Linked DNA regions of Homo sapiens. The protein of the gene in region 1 purifies or fractionates together with the protein of each later gene. This does not show direct contact. Each region holds a gene or a part of one and is shown on either strand. Other genes may lie near its edges.

Evidence for each region.
Region 2: the proteins of ZNHIT6 (region 1) and ZNHIT3 purify together in Homo sapiens (affinity purification with western blotting, with the first as the bait; one study listed by BioGRID). This does not show direct contact.

The regions. Positions count from the first base shown.
Region 1 is NC_000001.11:85,659,862-85,663,686, forward strand, and holds part of ZNHIT6 (box C/D snoRNA protein 1), read right to left. Parts: intron 2,417-3,825; coding exon of another isoform or gene 2,398-2,416; exon of another isoform or gene 2,257-2,397; intron 1-2,256. UniProt on the Homo sapiens protein: Required for box C/D snoRNAs accumulation involved in snoRNA processing, snoRNA transport to the nucleolus and ribosome biogenesis.
Region 2 is NC_000017.11:36,492,974-36,496,619, forward strand, and holds the end of ZNHIT3 (zinc finger HIT domain-containing protein 3), read left to right. Parts: intron 1-952; coding exon 953-1,033; intron 1,034-2,249; coding exon 2,250-2,431; 3' UTR 2,432-2,849; downstream 2,850-3,646. Other genes in the region: MYO19 (unconventional myosin-XIX), read right to left, coding at 3,278-3,433.

The DNA.
Region 1 (3,825 bases):
CCAGCCTGGAATTATTCTTTTTAAAATTGCAGAATATTCTTTATGTTGAAAAGAAACTTGAAATGCAAAATACTGTTTTTCTAAACCAGCCACCTTAGTGCCCACAGATCATAGAATTCATACATTCTTTTCCCTGTGTGTAATGTAATACAGATGTACTTACAATACTTTAAAAGTGTTTCCAGCATTCAAGGATTAAATGCTTCACATCTTTTAAACATTATTTCTCTTTGAAATAAGCAGTGTTTTTTTCAAAGTTAGTAGCAATTATATAAAAAAGAAAAATGAGATTATATCAGATACCCAAGTAAAAGATTAACTTACAAAGTAAAATATAAAATGGTGATAACTAAATTTTTCTTGGGAGGAAATAAGACCTGGACTCTCAAACAGGAACTTTTCAAGTGGCATCCTACAAGCACTTGGCAATAACTTATCTTCTGTGCATTTTAGCTAAATCATAAGGCTTCTAATGAAAGGCATTTTTCAAATAAGGGAATGTTTTTTACTTGTTTCAGTTTTTGGTAAATAATTTTCAGTGCATATTTAATGTTTTAGGTATCTGATTTCTTTTTGTAATATTAAATCTTAATTGGGTTTCTCTAGATTTCCAAAGCTGAAACCAAGAAGCAACAAAAAGAGTTCTTCAAAGGCCACATGAGAATCAGAGCCTAAAATTATTGCTGATATAAAATATGTTCCTAGCAGAGGAATGTTCAGAGGTACATAAAAATTACTATGCAACAAGTTAAACATGCTTTGGATCCTAAAACTGTAATGATTACACTTATTTGGATCCTGAAACTGTAATGATTACACTTATTTGGATCCTGAAACTGTAATGATTACACTTACTTGGATCCTGAAACTGTAATGATTATACTTAAAAAAACTTGGTTCCTGTTTTACATGCTAAGCAGGCACTTAAAAAGCACTAAGGATGCAAAGATTTATAAGAGGCTTGTCAACTGATAAATTATTTTAAAAATATTTTATGCAATGAAAATCTGGTATGTTGTGTGGTTTTGATTAGAATCAGTGGATTTTATTTAGTGTTTAGCCTAAAATGTTGCAAACTTCTAATCAGCAATACGCTATTGAGTGTCAGTAAGCTTCTGGGCCACAGCTTTCCAACCTGTTAAATGAAGCGTTCAGATTTCACTAAATAATCTTTTAGCTGAAATTCTGAATTTCTTAGATTTTTCTACTACAAGTGGTTACTCTTAATCTACCATTAATATTTATCAGTAATTTAAAAGTAAATTTTGTAAACTGTTCATAAAGAAAGCCTATCAGACACATATGGGGTTAATATTTTATGGACTTGGAATTTAGTTAAATGAAGCAATAACTTTTACTGGTTGTTTGGGTTTGGAGTTTAACGCTGAGTTAAAGTTCCGGCTCCATCATTCACTGGTCTGTGATCCTGGACAAGTTACTTAAGTTATTTAATCCTCAGTTTCCATGCTTGAAAATGGGGATAATGACAGTATCACTTCAGAGAGTTACTGTGAGGGCTAAATGATAAAACACAGAAACTGCTCACTCATTTATTTAAGCCCTAAGCACATGTGTTTGTTTTATATTTTTATTTACCAAAAATAACAACACTTTCCTATAGAAACTCTAGTTCAGGACAAAGTCACTGGATTTCATTAGCAGTGAACATACTGCCTTTATGTGCATTTTGCATTTTAAATGTAGCCTTACAACTTTCTGTATGACCTTCAAATCATTATTTTATTGTCACATTTACTTCCAAGAAGATAAAGGTACTTTGAATGTTTCTGTTTCCACTATCTTGAAGCAAGTTTTAAGAGCCCAGCTTTGCACTGCCTAAAACACTTAGGTTTAGCTCCTTTGCAAGCCATTAAGCTACTGAATCCTAAGGGACAGCTTTATCTTTTTGAAATTTTCACAAACTCTGGTATTTCCATTAATATAATGTCTCTGCTACCATAAGACAAACTACTTAGGTTTGGAGGAATTAAGATACTAACATTTGTCTTTTCTCTTGCCCTCTGGGACCCTTCTTAGACATTTCCTCTTGTTATTTCACTTGCTCACCCTCACAGGTTCACTGGCTGACCCTGCTCTGGGCAGCCTCATGGGCGCATTATGAGGGCAGAACGGCTCAGTGGGCCAAACAGGTGTTACAGTGACATATATAAATAAAAGTTGTCATGATAATCAAGGGTGTGCTTTTAATCTTGACTCTGTCACTAACTTTCAAAGAAACAGGCCAAGCTCTTGAACTTCTTTCTCTGTACTTTATTAGCAAATTAGTGTGCTTTAAAAAAAAAAAAAAAACCTCCTCATAACCACAAAAGACAAGTTTTTAAAGAAACGAAATCACAAACCACTTTATGTCCCATCTGATCACTGACACTCCATGGATCATCGCCCCTTCCACCTGCTAAAAAATACCAAAACTAAGTTTGAATTTCTCCAAATTTAGCAATCTAGTAGCAGGCCCTAGGCCACAGTATTTTTCCACTAAAATAAGATCATTGAATTAGGTGATCACTAAGATCCCTTCAGCTCTAAATTTCTACAATTTTTGATACTTAACTATATTTTTTCACAGTTGTATTTATTTCTCAATCTAGGTTTCTAGATTAAAAGTTCAACTAAATTATTCCAAAAAAGTTTTAATTCTTCTTTTATTTAAACTTTAAAAGGTATTATTTAAAATTTCTCCAAATAATACTTCTGTGTAACAATTTTTGCAACTCCTAATGTTCAAGTCATATAGAAAAGGATTTTGCCATAGTTAATCTTTTTCTCACCCAATCTCTCTTAGTTTTCATATTTTAAAAATCACAGTAGTTAAGTTAGTGGTTTGATGCACTTTGTTTTGGGATTTTTATATATCCACATAAATGAGGACGATACCTGCTTGACATGGAGAGTAGATCATGAATTGTGTAGTACAGACATATGTCTTAATTCAGAAAGCTCACCAGTTCAGAACTGCATTTGGTAAATTATCCTATTCTAACCATGATATTTAAACTATGGATGTGGTTAAATAAAATGGCCAACTATATATTTTAAAACCTGTTTTAAAGAGGGGCTTACAAGGCTCTGACTTGTTCTAGATATTATTTCTTTGAAATCTTTTCTGATTTTCGCTGGTAAATTCAATTACTTTTAAATCCACAAGGCTTGAGTTCCAGTCTTATCACTGGTCCTTATGAGCTATAACTCCACAAGGAGACTCAGTTTTGCCCATCAATATAATGGTAGGAAAGATACCTACTCATGGGTTAGTTTGTAAGGACTATAACAGGTGAAAATGTTTCCAAAGTGTAACTTGCTAAGCTAGCATCAGTAATAAGATTTTATACTCCAAAAGTAATTTGGCACTCCTAGCAAGGAAATGACATACTTATCAGGAATTATATTTATGATTTATGACAGAGACAGAGACTAGTTAGTAGAAAAAGCATGAACTGAACTCTTGACAAACAGGTCTGAGTCCAAATCTTAGCCTTATAAACTGTACAAACTTAGTTTCTTTGGGTAAGTCAATTTTTCAGAGCCTACGATTCCTAATCAGGTAAAGTAGAGAAGACATAGTACATACTTTATTAGAATTAATGCATGTGAAAATGTTATAAGCATTAGCCTGGCATTTATTCTTCAATTGATTGCTCAAATATTTACTTAGTGTCTACTATGCACAGGTAGTCTGCTAGGTAATGGAAGTTCATAGAAATAAACCTTGCACTTTATGGGGGGAGGCAGACAAACAGCTATTGCATTCATTGGCACAAGTATCATGATAGAAATGTAAAGTGACACTGGCTAGTAATGGTTTTT
Region 2 (3,646 bases), on another chromosome or scaffold:
GCTGGTCAGGGAATCCAGAACAATAGCTTCATTGGGAAGGAACAGCTTCCTTAGCCTTGAGCATCAGGAGTGGGGCCATGTCATCATGGGTGATATTGAGGCAACAGCCTGAAAGCAGTATTCAGGAGAAGAAAAATGGGCAGAAGACAGAGATGAGAAAGGCCATGGCTGTGGTTTGGGGGTTTGCGGTGGGCCCTGCTGGCAGGAGCCTTCTCTAGCCCATAGCTGCTGGTCTCCCTCCATGAATCTGGCTGGGACTGTCAGTTCACCTGAACTCAGCCCAGGCAGGAGGCTTTCTTTGTCCTAGATCATCTCGCTGCTGCTGGGGGTTCAGAGCTCACAGCAGTAGTGGGCTGTCAACCCATCCGTCCAGCCATCTAAACGTTCTTTAATACCTCCTGGGTGTCAAGCACCATGCCAGGCTCTGAAAGCAGCCCCTCTGGTGCCACCAAAGAGGTATTGAACATTCACTCCAAAGGCATGGCCCATTTTTGCCCTTTGAGAAATTTCCAGGTTGGGTTCAGGCAATGCCAGCAGTTTCTGCCCATGCTGAAAGCACAGGAGATTCTACTTGGCTGGTTTTTACAGAGCATCCAGTTAATTGGCCCATCACAGGGTTGGAGCCATGTTGAGGTGGGGATGGGTATTAAGTTATTAGACAACCGGGGTCTAAGCCTAAAGACCACAGGACCACATATACAGTAAGGATGTGAACACTAGAGTGCATTTGTTAAAATCACCAATTCTTTCACTTAGCCTCCCTCTTCTAAAAAAGGAGTGTTAGTATAGTCACAGACTCCGGAGAAGAGGATTTTTGTCTGTACCTGCTTGAATACCCCTATCACTATCACATGTGCGTGCACACATTTTTATCCTGTTCAAGTAGTGGTTAAAATCTGGTGCCCAGGCCTCCTTTTTAGCCATGAGCCATTGACTGTTTTGTATTCCTTAGATGATGATGACTCTATAGCTGATTTTCTCAATAGTGATGAGGAAGAAGACAGAGTTTCTTTGCAGAATTTAAAGAATTTAGGTAAGTCTGTGCTATGCTTGTCAATCGTTGAGATACATTTACTGTGTTGTAAGGATTGTGATTTTTTAAAAAGTTTTTAATTTCTTGAATAAGTATGGCATGTAGGGCTCTTACTATCTAGCCACATAATCTGTAAACATACAGGGTTTCACACCTCCCAGCCTGCCCACACCATTCCTTCTGCCTGGAATCCTGCTGGTCTTGTGGGTTGGCAAAATTCTGCTCCTCCTTCAAGCCTTGGTTCAAGTTTTCTTCACTCAGCTAAGCTTTTCTTGACCTTTTGTGTCTCTTTCAGAATTAGGCACTTTTTTGGTTTCCCATAGCAACTTGGACTTAATAGTAATAAATCACTGTTACATTTCATGGTAATTTGTCTCTCACATACCGATTTGTACAGCAGGGACCTGTATTCCCAGATCCCCAGTGCTCAGCTCACAGTCCAGCCCTTAACACAAACTGGTTATCACATGATTTGATTTAGGGGGAAACAGGTGTTGCCATTTTTGTAGCACTGCTTATTCAGTCCTTACAACATTCTGTTACATGTGCATGGGGTCTGTTAATTTCATTCTTCCCATTTCACAGAATCATGTTAAAAGGTTATGTTTTGCACTTAGTCTCATGGTAATGATTAGTTAGACTGAGTTTGGAGATGAGCTAGTAATAGGTGTGAAAAATTTTACAGACTGTGAAGTACCATGCAGGTATTATTGTTGGTTCCCTGCTACTGGTGCTGCTGCATGCCAAATGGCATGCTTAGACATCATTCAGATTATTTCGTATAGCCGTCTTCACCACTGGCAACTTTTATGGCTAGAAAGAAAGAAAACATGCCAGCAGCTTAATGCTACTATTTGCTTTGTGATTGTGCTGATAAAGCATTTTTTTCTTAGCTGAAGTGGCACGAAGTTACAATATTTACAAAGATACCAAGAACTGGTATCTGTTACTGCATTTAATGCGGAAATAGTTTGATATGCTGGTCTTACCTTTCATTTTATAGAGGTGGGGTCTCGCCATGTTGCACAGGCTGGTCTTGAACTCCTGAGCTCAAGCAATCTGCCCACCTTGACCTCCCCAGTTGCTGGTATTACAGGCATGAGCCACCACACCTTGCTGATAGTTTTATTACACTTGAAATAGCTCTTCACTTTTCAGCCATCTCCATGTGTTTCCACTTGAACTCAGACTGGCTTTTTTTCTTGTTAATTTTTAGGGGAATCTGCAACATTAAGAAGCTTATTGCTCAATCCACACCTCAGGCAGTTGATGGTCAACCTCGATCAGGGAGAAGACAAAGCAAAGCTCATGAGAGCTTACATGCAAGAGCCTTTGTTTGTGGAGTTTGCAGACTGCTGTTTAGGAATTGTGGAGCCATCCCAGAATGAGGAGTCTTAAGATGGATTATTGTGCTGCTTGCTCAAGCGTGTGCTTGACTCCTGGAACCTGCCTGCTCCCTCTCCCAGACCAGCTAGTTTGGGGCTGGGGAGCTCAGGCAAAAGAGGTTTCCAGGATGCAGATTAGGTCATGCAGGCCTTTACCGGCATTGATGTGGCTCATGTTTCAGGCAGACTTGGGGTCCTTAAGGTGGCAAGTCCTTTATGGAGAGAAAACTTGACATTCAGATGATTGTTTTTAAATGTTTTACTTTTGGTACAGTTGATAGACATCATAAACGATATCAAGCTTACACTTCATATGGAGTTAAACTTGGTCAGTGTTAATAAAATCAAAACGTGATTCTACTGTACATTGCATTATTCATAATTTAATTGTTTGAAATTACATTAAATAAATCAACTAATTAAATACTAAAGTTTTGTTCCTTTTTAAAGGAAATAACCACAAGATTTTTCCCAGCCCAAATTCCAGCGCCAATTTTAGGCCAACTTTGGCTGTTTTCTTCCAAAAGTGCTTATGTGGAATTGGGATCCCCAGTGTAGTGACAGACAGTCATGACTGCTGCTGAGTTTGATCTGTGAAGGTAGTGAAATGTGGCCCTGATGTTTCTTAACCCTGATTTGGTAACTACCAGCCCTGACACCATCAGTGCTTGATGTAGCCTGGAACCCCAGGCCCACTGACGCACTGGGCACGGGGCTCTGGGTCGAAGGCTGGAGCCGTCACTGTTGTTCATGTGCATTTGGAGCACTGTGGGAATAGTCTGGCAGCTGTGTGCTGATTAAATGTCTTTGGCAAGGCAGGGGGCAGGAAAAGGCCTTGTGGAAACAAAGGCACCAAGGATCACCCCAGCCCAGTGAAGGCAGAAGAGGTCACGTGGATCAGCCTGTGTCTTTCCAGCAGAATCTGATTAAAGCCTGTAATGCTGTAGGGTGAAGGTTCAGGGCAGATGTCAGCATACCGCAGTGGAGACTTTCTGCAGTGAAACTTTATCGATCCCTAGAGGGGAGAGAGAGATGCAGCTTTAGCACTAGTTCCTGGGAGTGCCAGGGCCTAACAACCCCACAGAGCAGACGCTAAAAATGCAAGAAGGTATGGACAAGTACTAGTATTGGGGGCCACAGCAGGATTAAAATAGCATTACATCCACTCAGTGTGAGACAGATGAGGAAACCCTAGGAGGAGGCGCTCCCTAAGAGGAATGTCTGTCAC